Regions from separate parts of the Homo sapiens genome. Here region 1 is linked to region 2. Evidence: fine-mapped expression QTL. Tissue or cell type: whole blood. Region 2 holds a variant in brackets; the other region holds the start of a gene. All regions are shown on one strand. Distances are from middle to middle.

Region 1 (8,106 bases), 130 kb before region 2:
TGCAATCTCCATCTCCTGGGTTCAAGCGATTCTCCTGCCTCAGTCTCCTGAGTAGCTGGGACTACAGGTGCCCACCACCACCCCTGGCTAATTTTGTATTTTTAGTAGAGATGGGGTTTCACCATGTTGGTCAGGCTGTTCTCGAACTCCTGACCTCAGGTGATCCACTCGCCTCGGCCTCCCAAAGTGCTGGGATTACAGGCATGAGTCACCGCGCCCGGCCTAGGATTTTTAAAATAGTCCATCATCTGCTTTCTGCCACTGCTTTACTGATTTGTTCTTGTTATATCCATCCTTGACCTACTTGCCAAGCCAAAGGACACTTTTCTGTTCTCGTCCTACTTCACTTCTCTGCATCATTTGTTCTTGTTGACCAATTTCACTTCATTGACACTGTCACTTCCATCTACTTGGCTTTTAAGCAGGCTTTCCTGAGTGTGTGACCTGTGCAATCCATAGGGCCCTGCACTCAGAGTCCCATGCTTATATCGGCTATCATCAACCTGAAATGCTTAATATTTTTGAACAAGAGGCCCTGCAAAGTCTCTTGCCAGTCCTGTTTTTAGGATATACTTTGTTTTGGTTTTTTTACTACTGTTCTAAGCGTTCTTTACCCATCTCCTCTATGGATCTCTCTTTTTCTGCGTGAATGCCAGTATTACCAACTTCCACCTCTGTGGCCTTCTTTCTATCCTGTACATTCCCCTTTGGTAATATCTAACTACAATTATAGTTTTTTGACTGCCTCTAAGTCATTTACCCATATTTCTGTGTCTCTCACCCAGGCCTGTGATTCTATTTCCTAAATATTTCTTTCCCTTCCTTTTTATTCCATTGCTACTGCCATTAATTAAGGCTAGTCATCACTTCTCTCTACAATACTGCAGTACTCTTCTAACTCATTTTCCTAATTCCAGTCTTGCCTCCTAATCCACCCACCACCAGGATCCCTCCCTTGCATGAACCTTGCTCCATACTCCAACCTTCCCACAACAGTAAGTATTCTTTCTAAAACAGTTTTATGATTTTACATTCTTTGAAATTTTCTGTTTTCTGTTGTTTTTTTTTTTCTTGAGATGGAGTCTTGCTCTGTTGCCCAGGCTGGAGTGCAGTGGCGCAATCTTGCCTCACTGCAACCTCCACCTCCCGGGTTCAAGAAATTCTCTGCCTCAGCCTCCCAAGTAGCTGTGACTACAGGCATCCGCCACCACGCCCAGCTAATTTTTGTATTTTTAGTAGAGACAAGGTTTCACCATCTTGGCCAGGCTGGTCTTGAACTCCTGACCTCGTGATCCGCCCGCCTCGGCCTCTCAGAGTGCTGGGATTACAGGCGTGAGCCACCACGCCTGGCCCAAATTTTCTATGTTGTCAATATAAATATCCAAACTCCTTAAAATGAAACACAAAGACCTCCTATTATGAGCCAACTCTTGCCAATTTTTTCCAACTAATTTCTGGCCACATCACTACTAATCCATCAGTCACTGTGATTGCCTTAAGTGCATTGCTTGTGTGCACAGTCTGAATCTGTAGCACCAATGTAGCACTTGACACAAAAGATTCCCTAAACATGTTATTGAGATGAACGAATGATGTCAGCTTGTATCAGCATTTTATATTTTATATTCAAGATGATAAATCCTAGAAAATCAAAATGAGTATGATGCTGCAGCCAGTTTTCCTGCGTGTCATAATGTATTCCTTATATAGGTGTACATCTCAATCACTTAAAATAGTTGAAATTTGTGTAATGAAACTTCCATCTTTGAAATCTTACTAAAACTCACCACTGGATTATAAATGAGCCATTTTGTCTTTGTGTTTTACATGACTCTAAGGATCTTACCAGGAATCCCTGTTGAAGACAATCTGACTGTTGTCCAAACTGTAAGAAAGATAATATCTCCTATGAGATCCCTCCTCTTCTATCAGTGCCATTGCCTTTCTCTCCATACTCAGGTGTACAGTGCCCTTTTTTAGGCTCTGAAATGTACAGCCCTTCATCCTAAACACTGTATTTCCAACATTTTTGCTCCCCTACCCCCAAATAGAATTTTGCAAAGACAATAATTCCTTCACATAAAGTCGATATTCATCTTTCATTATAACTTTAGATACAAAGGGTCTAAATCTGACGTTGAATAAACATAACTCATACATTACTCTTTTAAATGTATCCAACACAAATTTTATATCCTAGTGATTTGATGTTCCCCATCATCCATTTAAAAACGCATGTACAGGCTGGGCGCAGTGGCTCACTCCCATAGTCCCAACACTTTGGGAGGCTGAGATGGGTAGATCACTTGAGCCCAGGAGTTCGAGACCAGTCTGGACAACATGGAGAAACACTGTCTTTACAAAAAACAAACAAACAAAAAAACAAAAACAAAAATTAGCCAGGTGTGATGGTGTACACCTGTGGTCCCAGCTACCTGGGAGGCTGAAGCAGGAGGATCACTTGAGACCAGGAGGTCAAGGCTGCAGTGAGCTGTGATTGTGCCACTGCATTCCAGCCCAGGTGACAGCCCTATCTCAAAAAAGTTTAAAATTTAAAAAATTTAAAAATAAAGACACATGTACAAATCTTTTTTAACAATTGGAAATTTTATATCATTCCTGTATTTCCGTAACCTTCTGTTTCATTTCACTTCATCCATAGAAGTTTATCCTAGTATAAAACAGTTTATATACTTGAAAGTTTTTGTCATATTTCTTTACAGTAAAAATATGTAGGCCGGGTGCAGTGGCTCAAGCCTGTAATCCCAGCACTTTGGGAAGCGAAGGCAGGCAGATCACCAGAGGTCAGGAGTTCGAGACCAGCCTGGCCGATATGGTGAAACCCTGTCTCTACTAAAATACAAAAATTAGCTGGGCGTGGTGGCGGGTGCCTGTAGTCCCAGTTACTTGGGAAGCTGAGGCAGGAGAATCGCTTGAACCCAGGAGGCAGAGGTTGCAGTGAACAGAGATCATGCCACTGCACTCCAGCCTGGGCAACATGTCTCTCAAAAAAAGTATATATTGAAATTAAACCTTTCTGGCTGGGTGTGGTGGCTCACACCTGTAATCCCAGTGCTTTGGGAGGCCGAGGCAGACAGACCTGAGGTCAGGAGTTCGAGACCAGCCTGGCCAACATGGTGAAGCCCCACCTCTACTAAAAATACAAAAAATTAGCTGGGCGTGCTGGCAGGCACCTGTAATCCCAGCTACTCGGAAGGCTGAGGCAGGAGAATCGTTTGAACCCAGGAGGCAGAGGCTGCAGCGAGCCGAGATTGTGCCACTGCACCCCAGCCTGGGCAACAAGAGCGAAACTCCATCTCAAAAAAAAAAAAAAAAATAGAAAAGAAAAAAGAAATTAAACATTTCTGTTTTCTGTGACCATAGACTCTAAGTATTAAACTTTCTTAAAGATTGAATTGTACAAGTATTGATTCATAATTGATGAAGAAGACAAAAATAAAATGGTACGTTTTGATGAATATTAAGTGATAAAATTTATTCAAGTGTCACTTCTCCATAAGATTTCTGGAGTTTTAAAAAATTAATTCACAGCTGAATGTTACTTATAGTTGGAATAAAACAACATTCCACAAAAATATACACATGGAAGAGGAGAGGAACTGTGTTTACATAAATAAATAGAGATAGAATTTTGTTATAGCAATGCCATTTGGTTATTTAAACTTCTAAGGTCATATATTAAACATTACATAGCGATCTATCACACAAAAAAAATGTGTTTTAAGTGATCGAGCAACTGACTATTCAACTATTTCCTCCTATTTTGTTGTAAACAATTGACTTGCCAAAGCATTTATGACCCAGCTTTTGGAGTCCTTCACTCTCTCAGTTTCTAGGAAGTATACCAAAGGCTTTACCAAAATGTATCAAATGACTATTAATAAAACCTATTATTCCTTCACTCTAGAGGAAACTTCTTTAACCCAGCAGGCTCAAAAAGGATTGAGAAAATTAAAATATTGTTTATGTCAATAACTTTTCCAATAAAATATATTTTGACATTTAGAAATCTTAGGTACTTTTGATTTTTTTGTCAAAATTTCGAGTTGCAGATTTCAGTTGTTCCATGGAAGGACAATGTCCACTGTGTAACTCAATAAGACACTTTTCACTGTCAAACTAGTCAGCCTAATCAGATATTCTATCCAAAAAGTCCTAACTTTATTTTCCAGTTCAGCAATATATGTGTCTCTGTGATAACAAGCTCACTTCTAAGACAGAGCACAGAATGAAGCCTTAATGTGCATCTGTCTTTTGCTAACAGATTTCAACAATGTCATATTCATTGTTTCTTACTGACATTCTCTCTTCTTGGCTCTAAGAGGACTCTCCATTCTTAGTCTAAATAATAAGTTTTTCTTGCACTTTCATTAGGAGAAGGAACTTTTCTGTAGTAATACAGCTCCCAGAATACCTTTCACCGAAGCAATTCCTAAAGGGGTGTGTCTTATGGTGCAAGATTGCTGAAAGTCCCGGAATTGAATTACACAACCATATTCTGAGACAGTCACAGGATTGGTTGTTTTTTTTTTTTTAATTCCTACTTCCTGAAACTGAAGCCGTTTATGAGAAACAGTGTGTTTCAGAGAGGCTGTACCAGAATTAACTCTGCTCAGAGTTAGATTTGCTGGTCTTAAAGTACTTTTCCTCTTTAAGATAAAAGTGAGTATCATCCTTTAAATGACAAAACGCAGTAGATGGCATAATATATGAGGAAGTATTTGTCTTAAGTGTTGACTCAGTTTCCATCTGCTGATCTTGTTTATATTTAAATAACTTTAGAGCTCTAAGAACCTTTGCACTTCTATAATAGAAACTTTCCAGAAAGGGGAGGATGAGTTGGTGGGGTGAAGGGGGTGGAGTGGGGAAGGGGAGGGAGAGAAGGGAAAAGTTACCTACAATGGTAAACTGTAGTCATTATGAAGGGGAGAAGGCAAACCAGTTTTTCATAAGGTTTTAATAACAAGTTTCTTAAGTCACTGAGCTTCTGGTCTTGTCACTTAACTGAGATGTTTAATTAAAGGATTGTTAGGATTATTTGTTTAAAAAAAAACTCTATGACTTTTGCCTGGAATACATAGGTAATAATAGAAACTACCACTTTTATGACAGCATCAGTAATTTTGCTAGGAAACAGGTAGATAAGGCACGAGACTTACTCGTCTCATATGGGTGAATTGACGGGAATTCTGAGTGCGTGGAAGCATTGTTTAGAGACAAAGCATCCAGAAAAATTAAATTCCTTTGCATGTCTATTTAGAAAAATCCTTTAATTAAAAAATTCTAGTGTTTGAAATTAGTACTTTAGAGTACTTTGAAAAGCCACAAATTAAAACCTTTAAGATGGTTTGGGATTTGAGGATGGGTGAGGGTACAAACAGGCAGGATCAGGAAGGAGAGGACTTTATGCCACAATATAATAGCATCTCTGCTTGCGATATATATTTCTCTCTCTCTCTGTCTCTCTCTCTCTCCCTTTTACTTTCTTTTTACTTTGTGCCACTAATTCTCTTATAAGAAACAATATCCATTTAATTTGGGGTATAATTTATGCACTTGGGATACACTCTAGTCTCTAGAACCAATGTCAAGTCCAGTCCTTGTCTGCTGACCGAAACAATTTACTTCTCTCTTCCCACCTCCTTCCCACCCCATCAACCTCAAGCCTCAAGAGAAACAAAATACTTAAACTTATTTTAGAAATAACTTATTCCCCATATCAAAGATCTTTTAAATCTGAGATGAATCTCTCAAATTTCTTCCGCCAAGAAGACACCAAAATTGTATAGCATCTCTATCTGCATGAGTAGGAAGCCAATAATTACTTTAAACTTTTCAAAATCTATTTTAAACTGTAAAGAAAAGGCATGTGTAAATTATGATGGATATTAGGCATTATCATATATAATAATACTGTGATGAGCTTTGCTGATGTGTTAAGCTGTAACAATACCTCCCAGCAAGTGCCATGTGATCTAGGTTTGGATTTAGAGCCTGAAGTTTTCCTTAAGAATAAGTTTGTGCATTTCAAGATATTTCTGAAATTCCATGGCTCCTTCTATTCCAAACAATTTTACTGATCCCTTTCCCATGAACACAAGGCATGAATTGCTTTTATTATTCTCTAATCTATTGCAGAGAATGATGGCTTTTTGGCATAAGCTGTTCATTGTAAATGATTTTCTTTCTTGAAATTTTGAATATCTATGGATTGAAGAACTCTTAAAGGAATGAGCATTTAAACTTTTGGTGAAAATATATTCCATATTTTTGTTTTTTTTGTATTTTGTATTGTATTTGTTGCCTCTCTATATGGGGGAGTCTTTGTTTCTTGTTATTGATGGTGACAACTGTTTTTGCAGAATGTTGTAATATGCTTTATTTATAGAGAACTGTGGGATAGACAAACTTAAAAGAAAGAATATTATCTGGTGCTATCATTCTTCTATGTCTGAAGAAAAGAAGAGATGATTATAACTTAAATATCAGATACATACAAATACAACTTTTCCTAAGTATGGTATACATGCTACTGATTTTAGGCAGTACATGTCTAAACTTCAAAATTTTGAGTTATTTGCTAGCTTAATATAAATTAACATAATTTGCTTATAAAACCTAGAATTTCATGAATACTGTTGTTCAGGAAAGTGTTAAGTAAGAAGTTGAGCTAATTTACTATTGATTTTAAGGAAATGATTAAATAAATAATATTACAGGTAATCTGCAGATTTGGCAAAAATTATGAAGATGGCATGCAAATGGCTAAAGTTTCAGACATGCTACACTAATGCATTTGAGAAGTGGATATTTTCTTAGCCAGTGCAGTATCTTTGAATTTTACTGGGCCTTGGTTACAGAGCTCAGTTGACAATGCAATCTGTTCAATTTCCTAAGTATAGATGTACAAAGTATTTGACAGAGAAATATTTTATCAAACGTTTATCACACCTGTAGCCTAATAAACTATTATATTTCCTCGTAAATTATCATATAATTGAAGGGATGCAGAAGATAGCCAATACTTTTTCAAATAAGAGTGATAGAAAGGGTGAAATGTCTCAGCTTGAATACTACAGGTTCATTCTGCTTGTTTCACTGAACTTCTGAACTCAGGGGCCAGGGGGGACTTTAAACATTATCTAGATCAAGGGCTACTAATGGGTCATAGTATGTGCCAATGGCTATATGCAATAATTTCATTTCTGGGAATCCATCCTAAGGGGGAAATAATTCTAGACAAGGGAAAAATTCGCAAACATGTTCATCATAAAGTCGTAATAACAAATAATTGCAAGCATTCTCATAAAAGGGGGAGGTTAAGCAAAAGATACTGTACCCATAAAACATGATAGGATAAAAAATAGTACCAGCACAGAAAATACTAAGTGAAAAACAGACTCAGGATTGAATAACTTGTATGCATGCAAGTATTTACATAAAATGGTATAGATATAAATTCAGAAATATTCTAAAAGTGATTGTTGTCTTACAGTGATAGATTCTTTCCCTTCCTTCTATTTCTTTCTACATAACATGATATTCTTACAAAAAATTTTTAAATTATTATATAATATACTTATATCTTTTTTGAGAAAACAAATATAGTTTATTAAATAGAACTATATTGCTAATAATATATAGTAAATAAAACTATGCAGCTTTGGAAGATAAAAGTTTTTCCTTCTTTTTATTTGGCATACAAATAACCAGCTATGTGAAAGAAGAGAGGACGGAGTCTCAGTGCTAGGAACAAACAGGTGCAGCGGAGTCAGTGAACAGAGAAGGAAATACCAGTTGAAACACTTACTATTGGTTCATTTTTCTTGTGTTGATTGCTTCTCTGTCAACTGTAGCTTTTACTTCAGTCTAATAATTCTTTTGGCTTAAAGATAAAAAAAAAAAAGGCAGGGAAGGGGGAATGGAAATTTGGCCTGACCTGTGTGCAAATAACCTCTTAACTCATTTCTTGTTCTTATGGATTTCCATATTTTGGATTTAGTAATTTATATCTGCACATATTGTACTTATATTCAATTTTGTCATGTCTTTGTATATACTCCTACTGCACCTCAAAATGCACTG
Region 2 (8,106 bases):
CATGAAAGGAGGCAAGACCTAATAGTTAGGTAACAAATAACTTAAGGCTTCAGATATCTTGTCTGAATTTCTGGGCATTTAAGTTAGCAAGTTTACCAATAAGTTGAGCACAGTTTCCATTGGACTTTTAAACTCAGCATGCTTGGATGTGAGGTCTCAAACTGCCTGAAACTTGTGGACATTTCTAGTGGGGAGACAGTTTGGAATCCAAATATTAACCACACACCCCTCACTTGTGGCCACCATCACTAAACTACAGTATACACTCTTGTCATCATGTGTGTGTGCACACACACACGCACGCACACAAGGATTCAAAGCTAGGAAGAAAATAAATATTATCTGATGTGACAGAGAATGGTGAGGGGGTAGTAAAGAGTCTGCCTCTATTTTTGATGTTTGACCGACCACTGACAGTTTTCAGGCCACAGCCTTTTTTACTTTTGCCTCACACTGGACAGTCCGATTAAAACAAACAAACAAACAACAAAAAGCCCTTTCATCCACACACCCAAACCCAGCTTACAGGAACCTTTACCCGGCCCCACACCCCAATCACAGTGAAAAGCAAAGCCGCTCACCACTCCCTGCCTGAATCAAAGGAGCAGCTTAGGTGCTAGCCTTACTTACCCTAGAAAGTCTCATTATGTGAGCAATAAATCTTCTCATACCCTCTTGGTACATGTGTGCAGTCATCAGTTTTGACATCCAAACAAATTTTCCTCAGATGGGATCCACCCCACGCTCCGCAAAGCAACCATAAGACAGTGGGGGTAACAGTGTAGAAATACTACTCTGTGGAGGCCTTTGAGGAAAAGCACTGAGGCTGAGACCTGAAGGAGAAGGATCTGGTTTCTTAAGAAGCCAGAGGAAAGAGAATCCCAAGCAGGGCTAGTGGTAAGTGCAGCTGCCATGAAGCAAGAGGCCAGCCCTATAACAAGGAGGCAAAATAAAGTAGAGTGGACAGAGAGTAAGTAGGGGAACTGGAGACCAGACAGGAGTCAGTTCCTGCAGAGCCTTAGACTACAGCAAGAAGTTTGGACCTGATTCTAAATGTAGAGACGAGATTGTTTCTCAAAATGATGTCACATGTGCTCATGAAGACTTCTGTGAAAATAGTTTTAATTTGCAAGGCTATATCTCTGATAATTCAAGGGAATTTTCATCTTTTCTTTTAGGTACCTGGCTGTACAGAAATGAAAGTGACAAGGTCCTGGTGCAGTCGGTCTGTATACAGATCAGAGGGCAGATTCTGCAAAAGCTGGGTACAATCATGTAAAACTTGCATTTCTCAAGGCTCATTTACAAAGCCTGGCTGCATGGTTTCACTGTGGAATTTTCTTCTTTTATCAGGCTAAAATTGTTAATTTCCACTTGCCTTAGTTTCCTCATCGAAAAGAGAATGGCATTTAAGATCCTAGGAGTGTCACAAATATTAATAAAATGTGTTTTTTTCTAGTGAGTTTTGTTAGAGAGGTTCACGGTTGTATATTGTAATGTTAACTGTAGGGTTCCCAGTGTTATTTCTAGCATCTGACTCAGTTCAGCAGGACTCCATGTGATATGGTGACACCTTATACTATACCCACCGTGACACTGTTTTCGTTCATTCCTTAAGGTATTCATGAATTTTTCAAGTTTATAGAATGCTAATATACTTTAGAATGCAAAATAATGGTTTGAGAAATTTTAACAGGAGGTGGCAATTATTATTTTTGTAAAAAACTGAGATAACTACATATATTACACATATTATATATACAAATATATAATAATTCTGTTTCCCAGTGAAATGGAAAAATTGTCTATATTACAACTGGAAAAACATTGCTGTGTCAATCTAATCTAAGCCTAAGTTTTCCTAACAGAATCTAATGAGTCTTGGTTCTGTATTTGTTTTCAAAGGTTTTCTCTATACAAGAGCACAGATACTAGCTGTTCCTCCCCTGTCCCTCTCCCCGCCCCTCTTTTTTTTTTCAGGGATGTGGTACGAAGCAGCAGAGTTAATATGGGCCTCCATTGTAGGATATTTGGCACTTCCTCAGCCGGATAAAAAGGTGGTTTGTCTAGTGCTTCTTTTTCTCCTTTCCTGTATTTGTCTTTGGATGATTATCTCTTCATGACAGAAGTCCATTTCTCATATATCAATTTCATCTGTCCTATTTTTATTTATTTTTCACAAGCATAGGGCCAGGTACAGTTAGTAGCTTCCTTATGTGTCTTGCTTCATCCTCACTCACAGCTAGACTCTTGGTGCATAGATGGTGTTCTTATAATCATTTGTAACTGTCCATTTATATATTTATCTCTACTGGTCCATTCATTTATCTGTTTTGTTATATATTTACTCTTTACTTGATTGCATAGCAAAGTTGAGATGACCAAGTTGCTTATATGTAAAATCAGTTTTCTTGAGTTGAGTGGGCGAAGACTTCAACTGTTTATATAGCACCTTTATTCAAGAAATTGAGGAAGGTCATCTGCCTTCCTACTTGACATTTTCATTTTCTGGAATTCTGTGGGAATAGTCTCATTATCTGAAACATCTGGTTATTACATTTCCCTGAGCTGTGTAAGCAATTACTGTCTACGATTCTTTTACAATACAGACTGATATGAGCTCTTCCTTGGGCCAGTTATTCAGGCCTAGCAGTAGGGACAAGTTAGTATTGATCATCCAGTGAAACCCAACTGAGAAGTAGCTGTGTTTACATTAGGCCCATGTGCCCTAGGATGTGTTGATCCTTCAAGCTCTGTGGCAGCCAATTTAAAAATATCTCCAAGTCAGGGTATTAATTATTACACAATGTATATATATGTCAAAATGTCACATTGTATCCCATAAACATGTATAATTATTATATACATGTTTGATATAAAACATGTATTTTTAAAAATAGTATTTTTAAAAATAGTATTTTTAAAAATTGATTTTTAAAAATAGTATCTCCAATGTCATAGTAATAAAATATTAATAGGCAAATAGTTCATATGGAGGAATAATCATAGCCTTTAGGCCATGGATGAGAGCAGTAATCCACTGTGAATTCCCGATCTGTGACTTCTTTGTGTTTTTCTTACAGGGCCTCTCCACGTCGCTAGGTATACTGGCAGACATCTTTGTTTCCATGAGCAAGAACGATTATGAAAAGTTTAAAAACAATCCACAAATTAATTTGGTAATTATCATAACACTGAGTGGCATCACCTGTAAAATTGTCAATCGTGTCCTTGGTGGTTGGTTAGTGGCTGTCTTTCTCAGGAGATTGGGAGGCAGGGAGCTCAGTGCTGCGCCTCCTAGACAAATGGGAGGAATCCTGGGGAGGAGTCTTGTGGGGTCCTATTTGGCTTTATTATCCCAGCGCCTAGCACTGTAACAGACACTCAGAGAGTGCTCAGAAAGTTACTGGTGAATGAATGAATGAATATCAACAAAATGATTTTGAGCCTCACTTCTTTCCTTTCAAAGTATAACAAAATGCAGTTTCCAAACTTGGGCCATCTTGATGATAAAGGGGTAATAATTTTAAAACTTTGTAATCACCATCTGTTCAAATCAGAGCATCAGTCCCTTGTTCCAGGCTCTCGTCCTTGATAATAATGACTGCTAATTTTTATATATCACTTTACAACTCAAGAAAGTATATATATATCCAATAAAACCCTATGAGGAGGGTAGAGCAAAGTGTATCATTCCATTTTAGAGAAAAATAAAATGCAGTGCAGAGAAACTAACTAACCTCTGCAGTTTACACAACCAGTAAGAGAGAGAACTGGGAGCTGAGCCCAGATCTCTGACCAGCCCAGAGAAGTGACAAGGATGTTCTGCTGCTCTTCACACTGTGCTTAAATGGAGTTTTTATTATCGTCTATATTGCCATTTTTATTCAAGACCCCATTATTAAAGATACCATTAAATCACAACAGTAACCATGCTCAATACTAATTAGTGTAGCAAAAGAACACATACAGCTTGCTGATGGTAATCTGAATCTAAGATGTTGCTTTTTCTGTTTGACCAAAACAGGAGGATCATGTCCCTTGTTCACTGAAGTTATCCCTGATGACCGTTTAAAATTGCAAACTTCCTTCCCATCCTGGGCCTCCCTAACCCCTTCTCCATTTATTGTCTCTCCAGAACACTTGTCATAATCTCAAATACTATGCACTTTACTTGTTTTGTATATTGACTGGTCCCTCCCCCACAACAGAAAGTAAGCTCCTTGAGGGCTCACTGTCTGCTGTTTCCCCTGTGTCTAGAACAGGCCCTGGAATGTGGTGGTACTCTATACGTATTTACAGAATTAATAAATGAATTCTAATTGCTGTGAAATCATCAATTAAAGGGCTCTTTGCCAAGAGCGTGCAGAAATCAATTAATCTGGCTTCAAAATGTGCAGTTCCTTTGAACAAAGAACTGCCACCGTCCTCCAAAGAAGCTCACCCAAATTATTTTGCACAGGTGTGTGTCTGCTGGGAAAAAGGAAAGTCAACACCTTGTGGTCTTTAGACCCACTTACTCTTTCTTTACACTGTTCTGAACGGGTTG[C/T]GGTGAGGAGTCCCTTGAAATCATGAAAGAAAAGCAAAACCATTTCATAGCCTGTTTTTTGCTCATCGATAATTAATTATCACCATTCCACTTAGCCTCCTGTTTTCTCACAGAGCCTGCTGAAGGAGTTTGACCACCATTTGCTGTCCGCTGCAGAAGCCTGCAAGCTGGCAGCTGCCTTCAGTGCCTATACGCCGCTCTTCGTGCTCACAGCTGTGGTAAACGAATGCAGCCGCTCCTCAAACCCCCACAGGACCTCTCCCAGGGTGCTTTCTGATGTAACCAGTGAGAAGGGAAAGGTTTAACCTTCAAACAGGCTTTGTGTCTCATCAGTGGCAATTGTGATAAGACTCCACACCACATATGGAAAAATTTTATTGGTCGGAGTTTTGACAGCCTACTAGGAGCTAAATTAATTCAGCCCAAGGGTAGATTGTTGTCTGTTGTGAAGCAATGGTTCCCAAGCCTGAGTGCACATCAAAATCACCCAAGGAACCTTCTCAAAATACATATTCCTGCCAGGCATGGTGGCTCACGCCTGTAATCCCATCACTTTGGGAGGCCAAGGTAGGAGGATGGCTTGAGCCCAAAATTTCAAGACTAGCCTGAGCAACATGGTGAGACTTTGTCTCTACAAAAAATTAAAAAATAAAAATTGGCCAGGTGTGGTGGTACGTGCCTATAGTCCCAGGTACTGGGGAGGCTGAGGTGGGAGGATCACCTGAGCCTGGAAGGTTGAGTTTGCAGTGAGCTGAGATTGCACCACTGCACTCCACCCTGGGTAACAGAGCAAGACCCTACCTCAAAAAAAAAAAAAAAGAAAAGAAAAGAGAAAAAGAAAAAGAAAAAAAAAAGAAAGAAAAAAATACTACACATTTCTGAGCTCCACCCTAGATCCACTAAATGCAAATCTCTGAGGTTGGTATCCAAAAATCTTTAATTTTGGAATATTGTCCAGGTGATTCAAATGCACAGATGCATTCGGAAACCAATGCCCTATTGTTTCGACATTAAATGAATGATGTATTCATATATGGCATCCTTATTTGCATAGAGAAACTTATATCCATTTCCATGGATAGACTCTGTTAAAACTAACAACAGCAACAAACACAAGCCTATCGTCTTTAATCAAAATGTATCAAAGATACAATAGGATGGTAATTGAAGCTGATTTCTTACCCCTTCATGCCAGCCAGTCACTTATATCCCCATCCCTTCTTCTGATTCACCAAAAAGGCCTCGGGTCCTTAACTCAATGTTTGCCTGTATATTTTCCTTAGAATGTATGTGGCATGTGTTCATTTTTCTATAATATTTCAAATGACTGTCCTCCAGAAATGAAAAGTTTGTCCTGATTCACTTGCAGTTTTCAATTCAATATCTGATTTGGTATTTGGTATTTTTCCCAGAATATCCGTGGCACGTGTTTATTGTCCTACAGTAGTTCAAATGACTGTCCTCCAGAATTGAAAAACTTACATCTGTGTGAAGCCAAAGAGGCCTTTGAGATTGGCCTCCTCACCAAGAGAGATGATGAGCCTGTTACTGGAAAACAGGAGCTTCACAGCTTTGTCAAAGCTGCTTTCGGTCTCACCACAGTGCACAGAAGGCTCCATGGGGAGACAGGGACGGTCCATGCAGCAAGTCAGCTCTGTAAGGAAGCAATGGGGAAGCTGTACAATTTCAGCACTTCCTCCAGAAGTCAGGACAGAGAAGCTCTGTCTCAAGAAGTTATGTCTGTGATTGCCCAGGTGAAGGAACATTTACAAGTTCAAAGCTTCTCAAATGTAGATGACAGATCTTATGTTCCCGAGAGTTTCGAGTGCAGGTTGGATAAACTTATCTTGCATGGGCAAGGGGATTTCCAAAAAATCCTTGACACCTATTCACAGCACCATACTTCGGTGTGTGAAGTATTTGAAAGTGATTGTGGAAACAACAAAAATGAACAGAAAGATGCAAAAACAGGAGTCTGCATCACTGCTCTAAAAACAGAAATAAAAAACATAGATACTGTGAGTACTACTCAAGAAAAGCCACATTGTCAAAGAGACACAGGAATATCTTCCTCCCTAATGGGTAAGAATGTTCAGAGGGAACTCAGAAGGGGAGGAAGGAGAAACTGGACCCATTCTGATGCATTTCGAGTCTCCTTGGATCAAGATGTGGAGACTGAGACTGAGCCATCGGACTACAGCAATGGTGAGGGAGCTGTTTTCAACAAGTCTCTGAGTGGCAGCCAGACTTCCAGTGCTTGGAGCAACTTATCAGGGTTTAGTTCCTCTGCAAGCTGGGAGGAAGTGAATTATCACGTTGACGACAGGTCAGCCAGAAAAGAGCCTGGCAAAGAACATCTGGTGGACACTCAGTGTTCCACTGCCTTGTCTGAGGAGCTAGAGAATGACAGGGAAGGCAGAGCTATGCATTCATTGCATTCACAGCTTCATGATCTCTCTCTTCAGGAACCCAACAATGACAATTTGGAGCCTTCTCAAAATCAGCCACAGCAACAGATGCCCTTGACACCCTTCTCGCCTCATAATACCCCAGGCATTTTCTTGGCCCCTGGTGCAGGGCTTCTAGAAGGAGCTCCAGAAGGTATCCAGGAAGTCAGAAATATGGGACCCAGAAATACTTCTGCTCACTCCAGACCCTCATATCGTTCTGCTTCTTGGTCTTCTGATTCTGGTAGGCCCAAGAATATGGGCACACATCCTTCAGTCCAAAAAGAAGAAGCCTTTGAAATAATTGTTGAGTTTCCAGAAACCAACTGCGATGTCAAAGACAGGCAGGGGAAAGAGCAGGGAGAAGAAATTAGTGAAAGAGGCGCAGGCCCTACATTTAAAGCTAGTCCCTCCTGGGTTGACCCAGAAGGAGAAACAGCAGAAAGCACTGAAGATGCACCCTTAGACTTTCACAGGGTCCTGCACAATTCTCTGGGAAACATTTCCATGCTGCCATGTAGCTCCTTCACCCCTAATTGGCCTGTTCAAAATCCTGACTCCAGAAAAAGTGGTGGCCCAGTCGCAGAGCAGGGCATCGACCCTGATGCCTCCACAGTGGATGAGGAGGGGCAACTGCTCGACAGCATGGATGTTCCCTGCACAAATGGGCACGGCTCTCATAGACTGTGCATTCTGAGACAGCCGCCTGGTCAGAGGGCGGAGACCCCCAATTCCTCTGTAAGCGGTAACATCCTCTTCCCTGTCCTCAGCGAGGACTGCACTACCACAGAGGAAGGAAATCAGCCTGGAAACATGCTAAACTGCAGCCAGAACTCCAGCTCATCCTCAGTGTGGTGGCTGAAATCACCTGCATTTTCCAGTGGTTCTTCTGAGGGGGACAGCCCTTGGTCCTATCTGAATTCCAGTGGGAGTTCTTGGGTTTCATTGCCGGGAAAGATGAGGAAAGAGATCCTTGAGGCTCGCACCTTGCAACCTGATGACTTTGAAAAGCTGTTGGCAGGAGTGAGGCATGATTGGCTGTTTCAGAGACTAGAGAATACGGGGGTTTTTAAGCCCAGTCAACTCCACCGAGCACATAGTAAGTACAAT

Evidence for each region. PIP is the estimated chance that this variant, and not a neighbour inherited with it, causes the effect.
Region 1: it holds the start of ALPK1, and the variant in region 2 is fine-mapped to the expression of ALPK1 in whole blood (TOPMed, PIP above 0.99).

Annotation. Positions count from the first base shown.
Region 1 is chr4:112,292,787-112,300,892 of GRCh38, forward strand. ALPK1 (alpha kinase 1) reads left to right here and starts at 4,583. Exons shown (of 16, transcript NM_025144.4): 1 at 4,583-4,683. RefSeq lists an enhancer at 4,347-4,641.
Region 2 is chr4:112,424,487-112,432,592 of GRCh38, forward strand. ALPK1 (alpha kinase 1) reads left to right here. Exons shown (of 16, transcript NM_025144.4): 7 at 1,179-1,265; 8 at 1,981-2,057; 9 at 3,084-3,179; 10 at 4,663-4,767; 11 at 5,962-8,095. Among named protein-coding and RNA genes, the nearest start is that of NEUROG2-AS1, 87 kb to the right of the region's middle. The variant C/T (reference allele first, on the strand shown) is at 4,550.